Regions from separate parts of the Homo sapiens genome. Here regions 1, 2 and 3 are each linked to region 4. Evidence: fine-mapped expression QTL. A gene starts in region 4. Each other region holds a variant in brackets. All regions are shown on one strand. Distances are between the middles of the regions. Region 1 has its middle 57 kb from the start of SH3YL1. Region 2 has its middle 21 kb from the start of FAM110C. Region 3 overlaps LOC105373324 (a long non-coding RNA gene). Region 4 holds the start of FAM110C (family with sequence similarity 110 member C).

What was found. PIP is the estimated chance that this variant, and not a neighbour inherited with it, causes the effect. A credible set is the group of variants that fine-mapping cannot tell apart.
Region 1: its variant is the best candidate, but not a certain one, in a credible set for the expression of FAM110C in blood mononuclear cells (TOPMed, PIP 0.59).
Region 2: its variant is the best candidate, but not a certain one, in a credible set for the expression of FAM110C in lung (TOPMed, PIP 0.67).
Region 3: its variant is the best candidate, but not a certain one, in a credible set for the expression of FAM110C in whole blood (INTERVAL, PIP 0.76).

The regions. Positions count from the first base shown.
Region 1 is chr2:204,879-209,295 of GRCh38, forward strand. No RefSeq gene overlaps it. Among named protein-coding and RNA genes, the nearest start is that of SH3YL1, 57 kb to the right of the region's middle. The variant C/T (reference allele first, on the strand shown) is at 1,826.
Region 2 is chr2:23,326-27,742 of GRCh38, forward strand. No RefSeq gene overlaps it. Among named protein-coding and RNA genes, the nearest start is that of FAM110C, 21 kb to the right of the region's middle. The variant G/T (reference allele first, on the strand shown) is at 2,481.
Region 3 is chr2:157,600-162,016 of GRCh38, forward strand. LOC105373324 (a long non-coding RNA gene) reads right to left here. Exons shown (of 4, transcript XR_922689.3): 4 at 3,125-4,417. Among named protein-coding and RNA genes, the nearest start is that of SH3YL1, 100 kb to the right of the region's middle. The variant G/C (reference allele first, on the strand shown) is at 1,939.
Region 4 is chr2:44,184-48,600 of GRCh38, forward strand. FAM110C (family with sequence similarity 110 member C) reads right to left here and starts at 2,322. Exons shown (of 2, transcript NM_001077710.3): 1 at 1,257-2,322. The coding sequence starts at 2,202.

The sequences.
Region 1 (4,417 bases), 160 kb after region 4:
ATTTTTTCCATATGAGAAAATCACATTCTCTTCATCTTTTTCAAAAGGAAATCTTATCTTATATTGGTAACTTAAATGAAATATTGGTATAATTTGAAATAAATAAAAACTAACTAAAATATTTACATGTAACTGGGGGCTTACATGTGTCATTTTAAAAAAATAAATAGAAGTGTAAACCAAAAATAAAATTATAAGGCCCCCAACCATCTGAAGGAACCCTTTCTCTCGGTAAAAGGCATTCCAAAGTTAACCTGGAAAACTAGTTCAGGCCATCATGGGAAGGTGGGAGTCAGACATGCTTCATTATGCTCTCCTCCCTTTTGGAATTCAGGAAAAGCTGACCAGCATTAACATCAACACAGATCTTAAGTCTGATTAAAAACCTTTACAATCTATTCTCTCTGAAGCCTGCTACTGGTTTTATCATCTGCATGATAAAACCTTGGTCTCCACAACCCGTTATCTTAACCCAGACATTCCTTTCTATTGATTCTAAGTCTTTAGATAATAGCTTAATTATTTCAATGAATTGCCAGTCAGAAAATCTTTTAATCTACCTGTAATCTGGAAGCCCCCGCTTCTAGTTGTCCCACCCTTCTGGACCGAACCAATGTACATCTCACATGTATCGACTGACATCTCACGTCTCCCTAAAATGTATAAAACCAAGTTGTAGCCTGACCACCATGGGTGCAAGTTCTCAGGATCTCCTGTGGGCTGTGTTACAGGCCATTGGTCACTTACTTGGCTCAGGATAAATCTCTTAAAATATTTTAGAGTTTGACTCTTTTCACTGACAGAAGAATGGAACATACCTTAATATACATGTTGGATTTTACAAAATGAAACTTTAAAGATAGTTTCTGAATGATTAAAAAATGGAGATTTATAACGAGTTAGCAACAAATGGGTATTTGAGTAGATGTCATTTAGGCTAGGATGAGGATAAATTTGTTTCCATTTCAGAAGACAAGTTAGTGTTTTGGTTTTTTATGCTAAGCCCTTCTCCAAATACCACCTCCTATATTTGAAAAATCACAATTATTTCACTATTTTCTCATGCTAATTTCTTGACAAAATTAAGAAAGTAACTATTTTTTTCAAGATACTTTTGTTTCCAAAAGCCTTCATGAGCAATATGCTGTTCTCTTGCTGGGTGTTATTTCACCATGTACAGAAAGAGCACAACTAGGTTTGTTTTCCGTCACTCCACCACCTGTTCTGAAAAAAAATTTACAGAGTCCCAATTTCAAATGTTTCATGTGACTTTCTATAAAACTGAGAATGCAGTACTCTGTCCTTAAACATAATTGGCAATTTTCACTGTCATACGAAAAATTCAGCATAATTTCAATGGCAAAGGTATCTCTATGTAGCAACGGTAAGGAGATTTTTATTGTGAAACAACTTGAATATTTATAATAAAAACCGTCCACATCCAGATTTGATGTTCCACATATTATAGTGTAGATCTCAATTGTGGGCACGGAACTGAATCTTGGAAAATATACATTTTTAATTTATTTCATTCACATTACCCCAAATTCGAAACATATGTAGCAGCCAATTCAGTTGCTGAAGTTTTGAAATATTCACATGTATTCTTAAATGTACTTGCTTATAGTTTGTATAATGTACATAAAATACAATTAAAATTACTAGGTTTTATCTTACTCTAACTAACTCTATTCAGGAAACAATGGGTTTGATGTGACAGTTGTATATGTTTTCTAAGTCACACAAAAATGTCGCCATGTTAAAATTTGAACAGATCAATGTAGACTTGCAGAATGAACGTTGCTGAAGAAGTTGGCATTCTCTT[C/T]GCTATTCCCAGAAATCACTGAAAAGCCACCATGATAATACAGTTTTTTAAGTGTAAAACTTAAAAACCCCATTATCAGCAAAACAAGGAACAGGTGTTAATATAATCCTCAGACTACACATGAATTCTAAGGACTGTCAGACCCAGTTGAGGTCAGGCACGAGCTGTGTGGGAAGAATCAGAAACCAGAGAAACCCCAGTGACCAGAGACCCAGGGCCGTGAGGGTGCCGCATGCTGAGGGCCAAACCACATCCCTTGCATGGGAAAGAGAGGGAAACTGGGGTGGGGGGGGAAGGGAGGAAGGTAGGAAGGAAGGGAGGAAGGGAGGGAGGAAGGGAGGGAGGAAGGGAGGGAGGAAGGGAGGGAGGAAGGGAGGAAGGGAGGGAGGGAGGAAGGGAGGGAGGAAGGGAGGGAGGAAGGGAGGGAGGGAGGGAGGAAGGGAGGGAGGGAGGAAGGGAGGGAGGGAGGGAGGGAGGGAGGGAGGGAGGGAGGGAGGAAGGGAGGGAGGGAGGAAGGGAGGGAGGGAGGGAGGGAGGGAGGAAGGGAGGAAGGGAGGGAGGAAGGGAGGGAGGAAGGGAGGAAGGAAGGGAGGAAGGAAGGGAGGGAGGGAGGGAGGGAGGGAGGAAGGGAGGGAGGGAGGAAGGAAGGGAGGGAGGGAGGAAGGGAGGGAGGAAGGGAGGGAGGAAGGAAGGGAGGGAGGGAGGAAGGGAGGGAGGAAGGGAGGGAGGAAAGGAGGGAGGGAGGGAGGGAGGGAGGGAGGAAGGGAGGGAGGAAGGGAGGAAGGAAGGGAGGAAGGAAGGGAGGGAGGGAGGGAGGGAGGGAGGAAGGGAGGGAGGGAGGAAGGAAGGGAGGGAGGGAGGAAGGGAGGGAGGGAGGGAGGGAGGAAGGAAGGGAGGGAGGGAGGAAGGGAGGGAGGAAGGGAGGGAGGAAAGGAGGGAGGGAGGGAGGGAGGGAGGGAGGAAGGGAGGGAGGAAGGGAGGAAGGAAGGGAGGGAGGAAGGGAGGGAGGAAGGGAGGGAGAGAGGGAGGGAGGAAGAAATGAAGGAAAGTTGTAGAACTAAGTAACATCCAAAATTGTTTCCACAAAATAAATAATGCAGTTAAATATTTCATCAACCACAAAAATTAATGCAGCCATTACTACTATAAAGGAAGATCACAAATCCAGAACGCAACATTTCAAGGGAGAGATGATGAGACACCAGAAGACAATGACCATGAACTGATAGAAGTCAGAAAATAAATAGAAAAGCAGACTTATCTCCAAAAGGGTAGCAAACACAGATGCAGCCCCATGAAGAGCCATTGCAAGGAACCCCTTAGAAAACAGAAAATGAAAACAAAGCAAACTAACAAAACTTAAATAAAGGGTCTGTTGTGAGCTGAATGTTTGTCTTCCCCCAAACTCCTAAGTTGAAATCTACTCCCCAGTTTGACGGGGTTAGGAGGGGTGTTGAGGAGGTGACGAGGTCTGGAGGGGAGCCCCATGGATGAGATTAGAGCCCTTATAAAAGAGGCCCCAGAGATACCTCACACCTTACACCACGTGAGGGAACAGCAGGAAGGCACCACCTGCAACCCAGAACAGGTGCTCATCAGAACACGACCATGCTGGCACCTTGATCTTGGACCTCCAGCCTCCACAACTGTGAGAAATGCGTATCTATTGTTTACAAGCCACCTAGTCTATGGCACTTTGCTGTAGCAGCTTGAACTAAGAGTTAAAAAGACTGTTTCCAACAGTAAGCCAGATTTTATACTTTTAGTAACCATGTCCATTAAAGTACAGGAGGAAATAGATATTTTTAAAAGCAATGCTGAGCTGGCACAAAAAATAGGAATGCAGAGAGCAAAAACAAAGTGAAGGCAGGAATCCTGTAAGGTAATGCCTAACCCAGATTGGGTGCAGATTGCAGACTGGACTCTGAAGGCTGCACTGGATACAAAATTCAGGAGAAGAAGTCAAGGGCTGTGTAAGGTGGGAAGATGAATCAGAGATCCCCAAATAATCTGAGACTCCAAAGGCCATGCACTCTGTGTAAGAATAAAAAGAAATAAACTCTACACACAAAAGAAAAAATTGGAAATTGTCCTACATCAGTGCTGGCATAGGTCACACACACAGACTCGTGGTCCAAAACCCAATTAGATGCCCCAACATGAAGCAGTTCTGGGTTACTTGAGCCCCAAAGCAACCGGCAGAAACAAGTTTCATCTGGAAATCTGCAACATTAAGCCCAGATATAATTATAGTACTGAGGAAATTGATCAGTTTCCTATAAAAATGACAACAAATAAAGAAGCAAGTCACCAGGAGAGAGAAACAGCAAAGAAACATTCAGGCTCTCAAGGGCGCAGGATGGGGTTACCAGACATGAAATACAAAATGATTGTGTTTGATATGGCTACAGAAATAACAGAAAATAACTGAAAATATAGCAAGAACAAGAGACAATAAAGGGATAATATTTGAAAAAGACACTAGAACTTTCACAAATAAAAGCTGTAATAACTGACATTTAAAACCCAATGAATATTAAAAAGCAAATTAGAGACACTTGAAGGTGAATCAGAAAACGGGAAGATACATCT
Region 2 (4,417 bases), 21 kb before region 4:
TGGCTAGCCAGCTATCCCAGCACCATTTATTGAATAGGGAATCTTTTCCCCATTGCTTGCTTTTGTCAGAAAAGCTGTGTTTCTAAGACTTTGCCCAACATCCTTTAACTTTTGACCACATCTCTCCCCCAGTCAATAGGCTCCAGGTAATGGGACAGGATTCTGGGAAATAAAGAGCTGACCCTGAGACAACGCAAGTGAACACAGGCAAGCTGCTGCATAAGTAAACAAAATGTGTGTCTTTCATTAAATATTAAACAATGATAGACTGAGTATGTAAGCATGTTACCATCACAGGTGTGGAAGTGCCTAACTGTGACTTAAATTTTAGAGCCTCAGATTTTAGATCTGGAAGAGCCATGGGTTTCAATCCATGCTGGGAGAGGCTCAAGGTTACTCTGGAGAAACACGTAGTTTGGGGAGGCTGGAGACTGAGGGGTAGGCTCTCATTCCCCAGCTCCTTCAATGAGTCTGATCTATTTCATAATTCAGTTATTGGAAAATGATTCAAACAACTCAACCCAATTCCCTGTTATTTGGTCAAAGCCATCAGTCCTCATGCTTCTTGCCACTGCAGCTGCGGGCTCCCACTCTCCACCTGCTCTCCTGCCCAGGTTGGGGCAACCAAACTCCTTCTCTTGCTGAGGAGAGAGGTTAGGGAGGGACCTTTTTTTTTTATTATTTGAGGGTGTGGTTCAGTTGTAAACAGTGTATGTTTTAGAATTTGTGTTATTGTGATGGCGATGACCAAGTACAACATATTTCCCATTTGCCTTGCATTAACAAAAGCATGTATTTTACACAATTGAAGTTTTTGGATCCTACTTATGTACTTTATTAAGAATAGTGAAATTTGAGCAGAGAAGAATTCTAATTTTGCATCAGAGTCAAAAGTGAAAATGAAAGGAACAGACCCATGAAGGAACAGGTGTGAGCTGTTTACTTCATTCCTGCCAGTCCTGGTTAATGTTCAGCTCTGGCCCTGCATCCCACTTTCAAATGTGGTGGATGCCTCACCTAAGAAAGGCCCTTGCCACACTGGCTCTCTCTGCTCACCCAACTGTACTTACTTCTCTTAATCCCCTATGAACACTTTTTTCTGAGTGGGGTGTGTTCTCTGTATAAAAAAGTATTGTTGCACCACTTATTGAGGACTTTTTGGATGCCATGCTAAGCATTTCATAGTCACAAGTGCATTGTACAAACTACCCTTTATAACACTCCAATGAATTTATATTCCCATATGAATCAGCCTGAGGAAGTGGCGTGCTGGAGAGATTAAGCAATTAAATGACAGTATACAGTTAATTACTGAGGGGATTTGGGTTTAGAGCTGGATCTGTGATTCAAACACTCATGTCTATAACCACAAGTGTTACCATATCATTTGCCATATCAGGATTTAGAATCCCTGCTGGCAGGCCTGGGAAGATGCATTGTAACCAGATAAGAGGTAATTGCCACATTTACTGAGTTGTGAGAACCACTGTACTGCCTCTCATAGAATGCCAGGCGCCCCTGTGTTTGTCTCAGTGTCTCCAGCTTGAATTGCTTCACCCCGGCGAAGCAATGCTGCTCCTCTCTCCTGCATGGATCACCTGCTCCTGGAATTCATTTCTCCCATTTCTTAGGTTGCCACTTTACTGTAGCTTCCTGATCTAAGGTAAAGCTTTGATGCTGTGCATGTCCCTAAATGCCTGAGCACTATTCTCACACTGGGTTGGCGGTTTAGTTGGGTTTAAAATATATATATTTCTCTCAGGATGTTAAGGCCAAATTTTGTTTTCTTATTATATCTAGAATTTCAATGAAAAACTTCAGTGCCATTTTGGTTCTTGATTCTTTGCAGGTGATCTTTTTCTTTCACCTCTCTGGAAACTTTTCAGATCTTTACCTCTGTTGTTATCAAATTTCACAATAATGTGCTTTAAATTCATGTTGAGGGGAACTCATTAGATCTTTTAAATCTGAAAATTCATAAACTTTATTTCTGGAAAATGTTCTTGATTTTTAAGTTGAGATAAAATTCACATACTACATTTTACTCATGTAAAGTGTACAATTTAGCACTTTCTGGAAGTAGCACAGACTTCATCCCTATTTAATTTTAACACATTTGCAGCACCCCAGAAAGAAACGCTGTATTTCCCATTTTTCCCTCCTCCAACCTCTGACAACCATTCCTTTTTGAGGCTGAATAATATTCCATTGTGTGGACATACTTCATATTATTTATCCGCTCATCAGTTGGTGGACGTTTTGGTTGTTTCTACTTTTTGGCTATTATGGATAATGCTGCTACGGACATCTGTGTATAAGTTTTTGTGCGGACATATGTTTTTAATTCTCTTCAGTATGAAGGCTTCAGTAGAATTGATGGGTCAAAGAGTAATTCTCTGTCTTACTTTTTGAGGAACTGCCAAACTGTTTTCCAAAGCAGCTGTACCATTTAAATCCCACTGATTTATTTTCTGACATTT[G/T]TATTCCTTCTGCTTTTATGCTTTTCTTTCTGTGAAATTCCATTTTAAACTCTGAAGATGAATCAGGAAAATCAATACAGCTTCTTCAACAAATAAATTACAAGAAAATGATATATAAGAGATATAGGGGAAATGTATAAATTCTATAGGCTTAAAAACACATCAGCTAATCACAATGTATGAATTTTATTTGGGAATATAGATGGAACAGAAGTGGCCATGTTCTTCTGGTTGTTCTGAAGGGTTATAGATATATAGGAGTTTGTTATAGTCATCGTTTATTTACATATATGTTTAAAATTCTCCATATAAGGGTTTTAAAAATTCCACTGGAAGCCTTATGTTTTAAAATGTACTCAGAATTTGTTTTAATCAGAGATGTTAGGACCGGCAGACATGGAAGTGACTGTCCCGTTCATACTCACGAATCCCTAGAAATAGGAGGCAAAGGGAAGCCCCAGGCAGAGGCAGAAGGAGAGAGGGGAAGGCATGGGCAGTAGCCTCTGCTGTGGTCTCTGTGGGACAGCAAGGCCAGGCAGGGCAGGCAGGCTTAGGCTGGCCAGTGTGAATAACTTCAGCAGGCTCTGGGCCATAAGGGCCATCTCTAGTTGCCTAGTACCTGGCCCTGGGGTGATTAGGGAAGGCAGGTATTTTCTCCTACAGTATCAGAGCCAGATAAAGTAGGTGGTTAGGAGTATGGTTTCTGAATTGGTAGTTTAATTGGCTGGCCCTGGGAAAGGCAATCTTTTTCCAGTAAACCCCAGATGCTAGAGCATCAAGAAAATAGAAAATAAGAAAATATAATTAATGCATTCTGTATGCACAGATGGAGTCTTCCTTTGCTTCCCCAAAGGAAGAGTCCACGGGAGCCTGGCACTCCTGGACCTGAAGAAACCCTGAAAGTGTTGGTATCTGCAGATCCTCTCCAAAAAGGTTCGCCAATCTCCTAAGACTGCAAGCCTGACCCCAGCATTCTGGGAGCCAAGAGGGAGAAAGAGTCTGTGGATCTCCCCGCTCAGTAAATTGGCTTTCACTAAACACTCTCTTTGCATAAGCAGCATTACCCAATGTCCTGGAACTTAGAAAAGTCCTTTTTCAATGTCTGAAGAAAATAAATTGTTTCTTTTTCTGATGTCAGGGAAGAGTATTTGACTGCCAGTGTGGAATGAGGGGGACTTGGGATCACACTCTTCCCAATGTGCTTTGAGCCGACCCTCTGTGTCTGCCTCACGATCTCCTCTGCTTATCTAGACACTTGAGAACCCTAACCCAAGCCCTTCTAGGAGTCTGTGGTTTGGCTCAGCTGCCTTTGTAGGCATCTCTTGGGATTAAACATTTTCCACTCTGCTAAGTCAGTACAATCTATTCTTCTGCTTCATCTTCAAAAGACACTGAGCCTTACCCCACCCTCCACACCAAGTCCGTGGCACGCTTGAGGCCACAAGATTGCTGCCATAAGATTTTTGTATTGAGTGCTCTCTCTCCAAGCAACTGTGAGAGATTTCTATGGGCAAGGCCTCTGGGTTCCTGTCAAATTAAATTGTAGTTGAGTGTTGGGTGCTATTCAAGAAGCATCCACCTTTCTTCTGCCTAACAGAGCCCTGAATTATTTAGTCACATGGTTTGAAACATGGGGTGGGTGCTGGTTGACTTAACCTAACCAGCTCTGTCTCATCCTGTGTCACAGTTATTGGTTCCAAGGTGGGTGCATAACTGAGGCTCATGCCAGGTGCCACACAGCACTCCCTTGGCCCCCTAATGGACTTCGGGACAGGCAAGGGCCTGAGTTGTTCCAATTAGAGTCAAATACAAGTTGTGCTAGGTTGTTAGGAACAAGAGTGTGCTTGTTCATGTTCCCCCTTTGATGAAGAATACAGCCTCAGAAATTGTTCCTGGAGATTTTGCCAGACTCAGAATGATTCTGACTTCACTGAAGG
Region 3 (4,417 bases), 110 kb after region 4:
TCTTTTGTCTGCAGCTGACTGAGTGATAAACTTATCCTTTAAGATTAGTTGGCCTTCAAAAGAGTCAGGTGACAGGGAGGTATGCTTCCTCAATGCCTCCCTTAGTCTCTCCAGAAAGGCAGTAGGATTTTCTTCCTTTCCCTGTGTTATAGTGGACATCATTGAATAATTCATAGGCTTCTTTCTAGTTTTCCTTAGTCCTTCTAGCACGCAAGTTAGCAAATGTCTGTGACACCAATTTCCATGTTCTGATTCTGTGTCCCAATGAGGGTCTACACTGGGAACTGCCTGCTGGCCTGTGGGGAATCACTCTCTTTCCTCTGTTGTCATCCTGTCATTGACCTGACTGAGATACCAGAGATCACCAAACTCTCGGGCTGCAGTTATGGTGGCACTTCTCTCATTTGGGGTAAGTGTCTGATCTAGCAGTAACATTATATCTCTCCATGTCAGATCAAAGGATTGTCCTAACCCTTGTAAAACATCAATATAGCCATCAGGGTTATCTGAGAATTTACCTAGGTCTATTTTAATGTGCTTTAAGTCTGAGAGAGAAAAAGGTACATGCACTCTGGCTGGGCTGAATTCTTAGTTATACTTACTGATATAGCAGTCCTGCACCCCTTTTCCCGCCTTTCTTGACCACAAAGAAAGGGGTCCAGGCTGCTGGATTCTAGTGGTCCTTTACCAGCGTGCCCAACATTGCCTTTGTGCTCAGCGGTGAGTCCTAGAGCTGGGCTGGGTTCCTGAGTATTTCATAACAACCCAGTTGTCCCATCAAGATGCATCCCCATAAACAACAGATCTTATGCAAATTCATTCCAGAGACGGTGTAGCTAACTTTTTGAGTCAGGATTGAGATAGAGTTTTTTGATTCTGTAAGTACTTTAAAGCTTGACTGAGTGCAAACAGCTCCAACATTTGAGCAGACCATTTTTTAGGCAATTCTCCTAACTCTGCTTCCACAAGAATCTCCCTATCAATTACTGATACCCATTGTGTTTTTTTTCCTCAATCATTTGGGAGGAACCATCTATGGTCCTGTCCTGAAGGGAGTTCCTCCTATGTCTGGTTGGATCTTTGTATGGTAATTAAGATTTAAATCCCCTGTTAGGAAATCTGCTTGGTTAAGGTAATTTTCAGTGGTTAATGTTAAATCACCTTTTTCTAACAGAATAGCCCCATACTTTAAGATTTTGGAGTTAGTAAGCTACCTTTTTGGTTTTTGACTTAGAATAATTCTTAACTGGTGAGGTGTGCTCACAATGAGGTTTCCTCTAAAAGTTACTTTTCTACTTTCTTCTGTTGGCAAAGCAATTGCCGCTACAGATTGAATGCATTTGGGCCATCCACGGGTTACTGGGTTAAGGATTTTTAATAGGAAGGCTACGGGTTGTCAGTGGTCTCAGTGTTTTCAGGCTACGCCCTTGTTTACACTGACAACAAGGTAGTATTGGAGTGTTATAGAGTCATGGAGAAGACCTTCAATTATCAATTATAGGTTTTAAATTTACCCTAGCTTTTAAAGGAATAGGGCACACTTTTTTTTTTTTACTATTTCTATCTTTCTCCTTCTCTCTTTGACTCCCTGCTTGTCTCTCTGCCTCTTTCTCCTCTCTGTCTCTCTCTCTCCTCTCTGTCTCTCTCCTCTCCATCTCTCTCCTTTGTCTCTCTCCTCTGTCTCTCTGTCTCTGTCTCTCTCTGTTTCTCTCTCTTTCTCTCTCTCTCTCTCTCTCCCCATCTCTCTCTGCCGTTTACAAACTTGGGACCCTGGCAAGAGTGGTGGGGAATGGGTCCCACATAACTGCCCATGTTGAGAGCTGTATACCTAAATCAGGAGGGACACTAAGACTCCCTGGGTTTATAGCCTAGATGCCTGAGGATGCAGCGTAGAGCTTCCCTAGATCCCTTTGGAGATACAACTTGCTAGAGGAAAAA[G/C]GAAAGTCTGAACCATTAGTACTTAGGAGGCAGGGATTGGAGGAAGTAGATTCAGAGGTAAGGAGAATTTTGGGGCTACACTTTCAAGAAAGTCATGGTTGGGACCCAGGAAGTATGGGTCAGAAGGAAAGGTAGGGGTGCACACATGTAGAATAGAGACTTCTGGCTGCACCATGATCTCAACCAGCTAATTCAGGGAGTTTGGAACAACAGCTTTCTGCCTCTAGTCTGCCCTTGGCTTCCCCAAGAAAATTGAAAGTGGAAGCTGGTTCCAGGCAGACCACAGAAGGGTTGGGGGTTGTTAGAAAGCCCTTCTCCAGACAGCCTCACACCTGAGTCTTAGCAGCAGCCATGCTAATTGTTTTTAACTGGCTGACAGGTGCCCGGTATTTTCCTCCAATCTAAGGAAGGATAGGACAGAATAGCAAGCAAAAGTGGTCCAATATTACTCACCACTTTGGAGGTCCCTTCATGGTTACCAGAATGTTACCAGGGTTCCTTGCTCCCAGAGCTGCCAAGATGGTGGCAGGCCACTTCCAAGATGGCGGCAAGCCTCTTGTTCTCTGAACTGGGGTTCTTGGCCTCACGGATTCCAAGGAATGGAAAATCTTGGGCCATGTGGTGAGTGTTATAGCTCTATTAGAAACTGTGGGTCATGGAAGAGAACCGTGGAACACAGCGACTAGTGTTCAGCTCGATTAGGATGAACCTGGGCACTTAGCCGTGCAGGAACGATGGCAAGCCTTTAGCCTGATCCGGAGCAGCAACGGGTGCCTCACTGGATCAGAAGCACAGCAGACACCCTGTCAGATCCGGAGGGGTGGAAGTCAGTGGCAGGTCTGCATCAGCGACAAACAGCCGTGGTGGATGGTGAGTGAAAGCTCAGCTCGAGCCGTAACAAACATGTACCAGAAGAGTGTGCAGTTGCAAGATTTAATAGAGTGAAAACAGAGCTCCCATACAAAGGCAGGGGACCCAGAGAGCGTAGCCATTGCCGGCTCAAATGCCTGGGTTTATATCCCAATCATTGTCCCTCCCACTGTGCTCTCAGGTGATAGATGATTGGCTATTTCTTTACCTCCTGTTTTTGCCTAATTAGCATTTTAGTGAGCTCTCTTTACTACCTGATTGGTCGGGTGTGAGCTAAGTTGCAAGCCCCGTGTTTAAAGGTGGATGTGGTCACCTTCCCAGCTAGGCTTAGGGATTCTTAGTTGGCCTAGGAAATCCAGCTAGTCCTGTCTCTCAACAGGACACTGGGTTCCTAGCCTTGTAGTTGTGGCTTCTACGGCATGGAAGGGTCGTGACATGATTCACCAATTCACCACCCCATCTGAGTTTCAACACTTGGCCAGATCACGGCACTGAGCTTCTAACCTTGCAGTTGTAGCTTCTATGGCATGGCAGGGTTCTGGTGTAATTCACCAATTCACCACCCCATCTGAGCTTAAGCACTTGGCCATAGCCATGAGGCTTTGCAGGAGACCAGCCTGTGGAAATCAGTCTTGGACAAGGCAGCTCTTGCAGCTCAAACCTAAACACTTCCTAGGAAATGCTCAACAGCGTCCATCAACATGGAAGTTGATGTCCAGAAGAAAAAAGAAAACTTAAAAATTAAAGCAGATGATAAGTAAAGCAGATAAGTATTTTCCAATTAGATACAGACTTTGTGATCACTGTAGAAAATGGGAAATGCAATGGAATGACGAGTGAGTCTGGGGAAAGGAGTGATGTTACTCATGTTGTCATATGTAGAATAAGTGAGGACACTTCTTTGAGGAAGTTCAATTGAGGTAAGAGATGAATGATACAATGAAGGCAGTCATATAAAGAGCTGGGGAAGTGTTCAGGCAGAGTGGGTGTTTTGGAGGGGATACACCATGGCTATGTGTGGGGACCCTGTGGGGAAACAGTTGCATCGGGGCCGGGATGGTGGTTCCACTGGGGCTGTTGCGGTGCTCACAGGGAGGAGGGGTCACCCTCACGCAGTGCTTCAGGAGAGGAGTCAGCAGGCTTTCTGATGGGCTGGTAGGAAGTGTGCAGGAAAGAGGAGTTGGGCATAGGGTGTAGAGTTTTAGATCTGAGCGAGTAGGGATGCACAGCCCTGTGTGGAAATAAGGAGGGTGAAATGGGGGACAGGCTGAGGCAGGGATGAATGTCGGGGAGTCAAGAATTCTGTTTCAGACTTTTTTGCAGTGGGATTTTCTTCTTTTATTTGTTTATTTTTATTGCTTGGTCCACGTTGCTTCTTGGTGCATTTCCCTACTTATCGGACCCTCAGGAAATGCTGACAGTACGGCAGTTGAGGTAGAAGGAAAAAATTGTCATAACGAAATACCAAGAAAACAAATTAAAAATATTTTAGTGAAACAACATTTCAAAAAAGCATTACTTTCTGATAATTCTATAAGAAAAACAAGTTACTCTATATTGAGCAATCTCATTTTTTAGTTAAGGCACACATATAATTAATTTAATCAGC
Region 4 (4,417 bases):
GCCTATATATATTTGTTGGGAACTTAGGCTAGTGGAAAACACAAATCTTCTATAAATTATAAGGAAGAACTTAAGTCCTGAGCCTTCTGAGTTCAAGAAAAAGAATGAATTATCTTCTTCTCATTAATTTTCATGTCTGTACTAAAGTCATAGCCAGAGAAATTATTGGAGATATTTTTAGCTGTCAAACATAGGTGAGCCCTGTGCAAACATCTCTTGGGCAGCCTCCCCCAAACTCTACAGGCTGCCATGCATCTTCACTTAGTTTATCACAATGGCAGAAAATAATTTCATCTCATGATTTTTAAAATTTACTTATAGCAAGTTGTCATTGAAGGGTAAGAGGAAAAAAAAGATGTCGCAAAGTTTAAATTGTTCGTTCTCAAAGACAGCCCTGAAAAGGTTCTTTCTCTTCACTACTTTCCAAGACGCCCATAGGGAAGAGCAGGTAACAGTGAAGACCAGCACTCCTCAGTTCCCCAGTGAAAAGCAAAAAGAGCTCGAGGTCAATCCGGCACTACTGGTTGTCCAAAGGGAGGTTACTTCCTGTAGTGTCATCAGAGGCAAATAAACTATAGACTCTAGTTACAATCTAGTCCAATTTCCCCAGTTTAAAAACCTGAAGCTCTCAAAACAATTTAAATAAAATTTAGCCAAATAAAGATCTTTGTTGCTAAGTGAATGCCAAAGTGCTACAAGATCCTGTGGAGAAGTTCTCACCACTTCAGCACAGGCCTCCAGGAAAGTGCAGGGAGTCTTCCTTTCTGTTCCAGTAACACAGCAGCGCCTACCTAGGGCTGCAGGTGGACTGGTCAGCTCCAATCAAACATCAGGACCGCCCACAGCACAGGTCAATGAACTCAGGAACTAGGGCTCTCAAGCTGTTTTCAGCTCAGGAAAGAATACTAGGGGTGTAAAACTGCTTTCTGGCAGCATTTTGGATTTCTCCTGTTTTCACAATAATAAGCCAAATGGGACATATTAATTTGCAGAATTGCCTTTCCAGGCAGCCAGACGCAGCAGACTCCTAAGGGCCTGGACCAGCAGGTGCCTGGATTGGTACCTTCTGCTCTTCAGCAGCGGGGGCTCAACTCACAAGCCTCTGCGTCAGTCTCTTGGGTCCCTTTCACACTGTAGCTCAAAATCGCACTCAATTCTAAGCAGCTGTAACTGGCCATCGCCCAGCTCGGTCACACTCACCAAGATTCACAGCCCCGCACACGGCCAGCCCCGCCCCCAGCCTTCTGGGCACACACCTCGGGTCCGGCTCTGCTCCTGGCTGGGGGTCTCCTTGGCCTTCTTACAGGTGTACAGCCACTTGATGATGCGGGCGTTCCTCTCGATGACCGAAGTGGTGCTGGGCACCTGCTCTATCAGCTCCTCCTCCTGCAGCCCCTCGTCGTCGCCGCCGCTGTGCCGGGAGAAGCCGCTGCCGGAGGTGGCGACGCTCACGCTGCGCACCTTGAGGGTCACACAGTCCGACCCCGCGGTGAAGTTCTCCCTCCCCAGGGCCTCCACCACCTCGGGGTCCAGGCCGCAGTACTGGAAGAAGGTGTCAGACTCGGCCAAGGCAGCGGAATAGCGGGAGCTGAGGTCCGACTGTGAGCGCTGCAGCCCCCGACGCCTCACCACCCGCGGCTCTGGCCCAGGGGGCGCGGCCGGGACACTGGAGGGCGCCGCGGACCGCGCGGCTGGGGCTGGGGTCTCGGGGATTGCGGGGTCCGCCGCGGGGCCAGGAGTGGTCGGGACCGTCTCCGGGTTCCCGGCCTTGCCCTCGTCTCCCGTCCGGGGCACCGGCGCCTTGTCCTTACCCGGCCCCTGGAAGAGCTTCTTCACCAGGCTTGCCCTGGGGCCGTCGGCGCCCGATCCTCGCACGAATTCGCATTTCTGCCGGTAGATGATCAGCGAGTCCGGTCTCAACGGCTTCCGCGCAATAGCCCTGCGCGCCACCGGGGCCGGGGCGCGGGCCGGGGGCCCAGGGTCGTTCCCCGGGCACTTGATCGCCCCCGGGCCGCTGCCCTCGGAAGCGACGCCCCGGCCAGTCCCCGGCCGACCCCGCACATACTTGGCGCGATCCGCCGCCAGCCTCTCCACTGCGCTCCTGCGCGCCGGCCGCGCGGCGTCGGGGTCCCGGGTAGCCGCGGGGTCCCGGGGAAGGAGCCGCTCGTTCGGGGGCGCGCTCAGGGCCGCCAGGGCGCGCATCTTCGCGGGGAATGGACCGACCGGGGTTCCGGGTCCAGCGGAGACGCGCTCGAGTGGTAGAGCCAGTCAGTCCCAGGGCCGGTTCCGAAGTCCGCGCCGGGTGGGGAACGGCGCCCCAGTGCCCAGCTGCCCAGGCCCGGGGTTGGGGAGAACCGGAGTCTGCACCGATTGGCGAAACTCCCCAGTTCCCGCCCCTCCCGACCTCATCGCCCACACCGACTGGCACCGCCCCCGCCCCCGCCCGGTGCCCCGGCCCTGGCCGCGTCCCCGCATCCCCGCTCGTCCCCGCCCGTCCCCGCCTCCTCACTCCCGCCCGGGCCCGCCTCCCTGGCCGCTCTCCGGGTGCCAGCGCCCGCCCTCACCTCGCGTCCGGGGTCCCGGCCCTCACCTCCTGCCCGGTGCCGTCCCCGCCCCCCCTCACCTTCCGGCGGCGCTGCCAACCGCCTGGAGGACGCTGGGGCGAGCAGGCTCTGAACCCCCACTCGCTCAGCCCCAGATCCCCGAGGTCACTGCTGGACGCAGGCATTTCCGGGGAGGGGGAGCAGAGGGGACGTCCCCCCACCTCCCCCGGGCAGGTGCCTCACATCCTTTGAATTCTTAAAGTGACCTCATCGTGTTTGGAAACTTGACTGTTTAATTTTGTCTACCTGAGCTCATATTCTTATTAACAGAAAGGAATAGGACATAAGAGGAAAGAACACGCAGCGCACGCCAGGATCAGCCTACGTGTTGGGTGGCAAGAACGCAGGGCCTCGGATTGGGTCCGACTCGGTCGCTGGCCGGCAGCGGGCGTGGCCGGGCCCGAGGACCGAGCTAGGACTCTCAGTGGGGCAGGCTGGGGCCCCAGGCGCGGCTCAGTGGATTTGGAAGAAGCCCAGCCAAGTGTCCAGAATCATTGCTATTTTTACGGTAACCGAGGCAACGGGGAAACCACGAGTTCACCAGGCAGTGGATCAGCCTAGGAATGCTAAGAGTCTAAGATAAAATACTTCCCAAACTCCATTATTTCAAAAATTTGGACAAAATACTAAAGTTATCTCTCAGACATGTGAAATGTTCACGTTATCGCGTTGTGAAGACAACTCCGTAACAGGCTGTGCTTTCAGCCTTGTGGTTGAACGCTCCGAGCAGCAGCAGCCCGGAAGGCAGGGAGGGCGACAGGTGCAGATGGGCCCCCAAAGTGGGCACGAACACCTCACCAACGAGGAAGAGGACCGCAGCAGGGTGGTGCTGAGTGGGCCTTGGGGGTCTTTAATCTCCTTGAGCCCCAGCGAAGCAAAATTTCATAGGGATAGTAGCACAACAATAAATCGCCTCCTGAAAGCCAGACCGCCCAGACAGCCTCGTTGGAACATGTAAGACTCATAGGAAAAGGAGTCTAGGCCAATAAAGTAGAGAGTGGGAGAAGAGAAGGAAGGATGCGGGGGTGGGGAGTGAAAGAGAGGGACAGAGATGGAGAAAGGGGGAGCTCCTGGGTTGCCACAGATGGTTTCCTACAGGATGCGGGAGGATGGGGCCTTGAGGTCTAAAGTCCAGCCTGCTCTCTGCTTGGCAAGCCTGTTCCCTAAGTCAGAGGAAAAAACCTTTTTAATTGTGTAGCCCAAAGTGTCTTCTTTTCCTAATTTGCACTACTTCATGGGCAACAGCAGCACTTCTAAGACAGAGAACTGCAAAGTACAGGACCTCTGGAATTTGACCCTGGGTCCACAATTTACCTTTGGACAGGTAACAAACGTTCCAGGTTGTTTTGTCACCTGTAAAAATTTCTGTTTTAAATTTACAAGAAAAGACAATCCCATTAAAAAGCGGACAAAGGACATGAACAGACACTTCTCAAAGGAAGACATTTATGTGGCCAACAAACATATGAAAAAAGCTCAACATCATAGATCATTAGAGAGATGCAAATCAAAGCCAATGAAATACCATCTCACGCAAGTCAGAATGGCTGTTATAAAAAGTCAAGAAACAACAGATGCTAGAGAGGCTGCAGACAAATAGGAACGTTTTCACACATTGATGGGAATGTAAATTAGTTCAACTACTGTGGAAGACAGTGTGACAATTACTCAAAGACCTAGAACCAGAAATATCATTTGACCCAGCAATACCATTACTGAGTATACACCCAAAGAAATACAAATTATTGTCTTATGAAGATACATGCACACATATGTTCACTGCAGCACTACTCACAATGGCAAAGATGTAGAAT